2 separate regions of the Homo sapiens genome follow, and region 1 is linked to region 2. Evidence: fine-mapped expression QTL. A gene starts in region 2. The other region holds a variant in brackets. All regions are shown on one strand. Distances are from middle to middle.

The links.
Region 1: its variant is fine-mapped to the expression of SPMIP3 in monocytes after R848 (Quach 2016, PIP 0.95). The same link has a PIP of 0.9 or more in monocytes after Pam3CSK4.

The regions. Positions count from the first base shown.
Region 1 is chr1:244,311,439-244,314,382 of GRCh38, forward strand. The region is part of intron 1 of LOC105373262 (a long non-coding RNA gene); the gene reads right to left. Among named protein-coding and RNA genes, the nearest start is that of SPMIP3, 40 kb to the right of the region's middle. The variant TATATACAC/T (reference allele first, on the strand shown) is at 1,581.
Region 2 is chr1:244,351,213-244,353,967 of GRCh38, forward strand. SPMIP3 (sperm microtubule inner protein 3) reads left to right here and starts at 1,423. Exons shown (of 5, transcript NM_001012970.3): 1 at 1,423-1,522.

The sequences.
Region 1 (2,944 bases), 40 kb before region 2:
GGGCTCACTGTATTGCCCAGGCGGATCTCAAACTAGTGGGCTCAAGCAATCCTCCTGCCTCAGCCTCACAAGGTGCTGGGATTACAGGCATGAGCCACCACGTTCAGCTTTCTTTCCTTTTTATTCCTATCAAATAAAGTAAAATGCAATTCCTTTTTGCCTATTACATATATTTCTAATCTCAATCTAAAATCTGTCTCCTCATTTTTCAAGCTTTTAATTTAGCTAATAAAAGCTTTTACCTTTTATTTCTTCCACTTTAAATCTAAAGCATTTCAACTTATATCTTTCATTACCTTTCAGATTTAGTAGGTTATTTATTTTATTTTTTAGATTTAGCCCACCACTGGCCACTGCTCCTGGGAGGTGGCGTGTGAGTGAGTGAGTGCAGGAACTAGAGCGAATGAACTCTGGAGCCAGCTGGTCGCTCCTCTCCGGCAGGAGCAGGCTCTGTGCAGGCCCCGCAGCAGCATCCAAGCATGTTACAACCAATTGCCCTTTCAGCTCTGCCGTCTGAGGACAGCCAAGTGCCAGTCAGCTCAGTGGAGGGTCAGGGTGGCAGCCCCTCCCCTCTTGGCACCTGGGTTCTTGTCTGGTGTCCAGGAAGAATCAGGTCACATGAAGTGTTTGAAAGGTGATGAATGCGGAAGACTTTATTGAGCAGTGGGTGGCTCTGGGCAGAAAGGGAGGCTGGAAAGGGCATGCGAAGGTGATCTTTTCCTGAAGCTCTGCCGTCTTTGGCTGGGCCCCTCTCTGAAGCCACGCTGTCTGAAGTTGGCCACATCTATCTGTAGTCTCTGGTGCTCAGTTGCTTCTCTGCTCACCGCTCAGCTGCTTGGATCCACAACACTCAGCTGCTTGGATCCGCGACACTCAGCCACTTGTGTTGTTCTGCCAGCTGAAGTCTTTTATGGGCACAGGATAGGGGCGGGGGAGGCCCAAAAAGCCACATTTGGGCAGAAAAATGGGATCAGCTGTTTTCACTTAGGGCCACGGTTCCAGGCTTAAGGCTGGGGTTTAGCCAGGAGCCCAGCCCTTCTGTATCACTGGAACTGGAGGCGTACGTCACCATAGCCGGCTAATGTTGGTATTTTTTGTAGAAACAGGTTTTCACCATGTTGTTCAAGCTGGTCTCGAACTCCTGGGCTCAAGCAGTCCACCTGCCTCAGCCTCCCAAAGTGCTGGGATTACAGGCATGAGCCACTTCATCTGGCCTGTTTTTTCTTACATTTACCTTTAACCCGTAATCTTTCCTCAAGCTCCCACAGTCCCTTTATTAGCATGCCCTAATTTCCTTTCCCTTTCCTTCCTCCTCTCATACAGTGATTGGCTTTGACAATGTCTGTAAAGGAGGGTGGTCTCAGGGGCGTTAGGAGTTCGGAGCTGATGACATGGAAGAGGTTTTCTCCTCTGACTGTCTCCAAACCTGCCAGCCTGGCTCGCACGATGGCCCCAGAGCATCTTGGAGGATGCCTCAGAACCTTCGGCCTGCATTTGAAGGCTTCATCTATTCCAGGGCCATAATTCTCTCTGAACTATTTATATATATATATATATATATATATATATATATATATATA[TATATACAC/T]ACACACACACATATATATAGATATAGATAGATATATAGATATATAGACATATAGATATAGTTGTTTTTTTTGTTGTTTTTTTGTTGTTTTTTTTTTTGAGACAGAGTTTTGTTCTTATTGCCCAGGCTGGAGTGCAATGGCACAATTTCAGCTCACCGCAAGCTCCGCCTCCCAGGTTCAAGTGATTCTTCTGCCTCAGCCTCCCGAGTAGCTGGGATTACAGGTGTGCACCACCACGCCCGGCTATTTTTGTATTTTTAGTAGAGACGGGGTTTCACCATATTGGGTTAGGCTGGTCTCGAACTCCTCACCTCAACTGATCCACCCGCCTCAGTCTCCCAAAGTGCTGGGATTACAGGCGTGAGTCACCGTGCCCAGCCTATTGTTTATGTCTTACATAATCCAGTCCCTTGTGTTTTAAAATCCGTGGTGTTCAATATCTAACTCTATGTTGTTCAACAATCCACACCGATGACATAGCATGTACATCATGAGCCAGAGAATGTGGTCCAGGAGCTTACAGCACAGCAGCTTGGCCTGGCGGCAGGTGGCCCGGGGCCCTGAAGCTTGGAGAGGGTCTCTGTAGGTGCACTACGGGAGGCTTGTTTTCCTATCTGTATCTCAACTGCTTATTTCCAAGTTGCAACACTCCCCTTCCTGGCGGGCTATGAAAGGACTTTGGGTGTGTGGCTCTCCCAGGCTCCCTTCCCTCCTTATGACAGTGCTGGAAAAACTGGCCAGTATGGCTATTATTCTGGATGATTTTTTTAAATGACAATAATTGATGCTGATGGGGGAGTTTCAAAGACTCTCCCCTTTTCTTCTTAATTGCAATAGCTCTTACCACAAAGGCCAAGGAATCAACGTAGATTGATTCTACATTAATTGCATATTCAGGTTCTGGGGCAATGCCCACCAGACGGGTCAGTAGACCCAGTGGAATCAATGTGAGCCAGACATGGGCCAGAATTCCATTTACTGTCTGAACCCCACATGCCTCCATTCTAACAGGGGTGTATCATGGCTCTGAGGATAAGCAATGTCGTTATCTGAGAAAATAACCATAAGGATCAATGGGGAAAGCCTGGGGCAAACATTACTACTTACAGCCCTGAGGCTGCCGGGCTTTTCCTAGTGAGGACCCAGCCTCTTCTTCGGTCATTGGATTCTGGGCTTGAAAAATATCTCAGGCCCCAAAAAAAGAACAAGGGATTGTAACTTTTTAATTATTTTTTACAATTTTTTTAGAGATAGAGTCTTGCTTTGTCACCCAGGCTGAAGTGCTGTGGTACAACCATAGCTCACTGCAGCCTCGAATTTCTGGGCTCAAGTGATCCTCTGCCTCAGCCTCCTAA
Region 2 (2,755 bases):
TTTCCTCAGTGAAGAATACTGGTTATTACTCTTAAAACGCCTTTGACGTCAAATAGCTGGATTCAAATCATAGATTCATTACGGCCTCGTTGTGTGACTGTTAGGCAAGTTCCGTAGCTTCTTCTCTTAGCCTTCATTTCAAATAGAAATACTTCATTTTCAAAAGAGAATCTCCTTCCATGGTGGTGGTGGAGATTCTAGATGGTGTGTGTCTAATAGCTAAAAAAACGTGTGGTGCTCACTCAACAAATCAAACCAATTTATCCTTTCTCTTAGTGTGGTTCCAGTTTGTTGCTTCTGTCCTCATATATTTATTTAAGTTTTCCCTAGCTTATCTGCTTTCAACAAAATGCTGTCACCAAGACTCTGTCATTACATTATTTTATGCCTGTTCCATGTAGGTTAAGCTCCCAGCAGGAACCCAGCCTGGCCCCTGGTCTCTCCTGAGTGCCTTCTGGAATCTTATGGAAATATTTTACATTCTAACCTGCAAACTGTATATAAGTGAGAAGTGTCCCTGTTTCCAGGACAACCTACTGTAGATAATGCCAGTGTTGGCTGGGTGTGGTGGCTCACGCCTGTAATCCCAGCACTTTGGGAGGCCGAGGCGGGAGGATCATGAGGTCAGGAGATCGAGACCATCCTGGCCGTGGTGAAACCCCGTCTCTACTAATATACAGAAACTTAGCCGGGCGTGGTGGCACGCGCCTGTAGTCCCAGCTACTCAGGAGGCTGAGGCAGGGGAATCGCTTGAATCCGGGAGGCAGAGCTTGCAGTGAGCCGAGATTGTGGCACTGTACTCCAGCCTGGGCAACAGAGACTCCATCACAAAAAAAAAAAAAGAAAAAAAAATGCCAGTGTTTCGTTTTGGTTTGGTTTGGTTTTGACAGAGGTTGGTCAGAATAAATATTTTTGCCACTCTCTTCTTCTCAGGTTATGGCTTGCTTCTATATAGTGGTGCTGTTGTGATACTCCATGGATTGGTTTGCAGCATATTTTTAAATAATTAAAATTATCCTTTGATACCTGCAAAGGAGCAGGTTGGAGCCTGACCTAACCTTGGACAAGGCGGGGCTGGCCTCATCTGCCCCTCGTGCCAAACCATCCTTCCTCAATTCCAGCTTGCAAAGGGCAGGACTCCTCAGTGTGGCACCACCCAGATTTTCACCTTACGTTGTCCTTGGGACAATCTTTACAGGAAAGCAAGCTCTAGTGATTAGATAGCCTGGTTATTTGCCTACATGATTTTCCTTTTCACAGTAATTTTTGCCCCTTCTTTCATGTGCAGCTGGTCTCTCCCTAGAGACCAAAGGAGCACTCTTTTTCTAAGCCCAGGACCTGAAAGGCATTGCCTGGCAAAACCTTGCAAGCCAGTGTGCGTCACAATACCCTTTGAATGATGTAAAGGAATCAGGCCCTGCCACTCTGCAGTTGATCCAGCAGCAGGAGGCAGCTGTACCCATCACTGTCCTCAGAGTACTTTTAAGAACAAGGAGGTCTCTGCCCACGGCAGCCCAAGCAGGTAATAGCGGTTGGTTGTTACTGCCTGTACCTCTCTCTCGCCTCATTTAGAGGTTGCATTACTAAATGGTTGACTGCATTTCAAATATTTTAGAGACAGGAACTCACAACATAAAGAAACTTCATGGCAAGCCTTTTGGTAAAGCAAAAATGTCTTTTGGAAAGTGAATACTCATCTCTCTCAACTTTGAATTCTTGTCATAGTTTTAACTCAACGTGTCTTTTTTTTCTTAGAAACGGGTACACCTATATTAAATAAGATAATTGGTTCTCTGTGATACAAGAAGACCTAGGTTTTAAAAACTGTGAACTAGATTAACAGGTTACTGAGTTAGCTGATCGATTGATTTATTCACTCATTCTGAAGTATGCATCAAGCACTCCTTGGACAGCGAACACTTTGCAAGAGAATGAGTTAGGAGAAGGACAAAGAGAGTGAAGATCGTGGCCACCAAACGAAGTGGTCCCCAACATCTAGGAGCTCACATTTTACCTGAAGAGACAAAGTGCTGTATAAAACAGATGTCTTGGCCAAGCGTGGCGGCTCACACCTATAATCCCAACACTCTGGGAGGCCGAGGTGGGAGAATCACTTGAGCCCAGGAGTTTGAGACCAGCCCGGGCAACGTAGCAAGGTCCTGTCTCTGTTTAAGAAAACAAACAACAACAACAACAACAAAAAACCCAGATGTCTCGTTGTTTGAAGAATTTCTAGAACCTTATCCAAAGCCTGGTGGAGAGTTGTCACTAATTTTTCTTAAATAATAAAATGAATAAATCAATTCAGAAACCAATAAACCAAAAAGGAAAGGACTCAGAACCAAAATGCGTAGGAGAATCTCCCAGGGGCTCTGGGAATTCACAGGAGGGAAATGGGCCATTTGAAACTCAGAAGAGAGGCCTCCTAGGGAACGTATGTAGGACCTGAACAAAGCCCTGAAGAATGGGCTTAATTTAGGCTAGAGAAGGAAAAAAGAAAGAGTATTCAGGCAGCAGAATTCATTACAGAACTGGTGAGAGTCAGGGGAGAAGGGAACCAACCTTCCTGAACTGGGAAAACTGCCTGCCTGAGAAAACAGAAGCAACAGGGGACTATCAAAGTAACTCATTGCTGCGAGCCCTCTTCTAAACAGCCTCTCATCGCACAGGCTCAGAGGCAGCTAGTACAGTCACCATGCTCCTAGCCAGGGTGAGTCATGTCAATCCCAAAGCACTTCCCCACCCACGCCTTCTC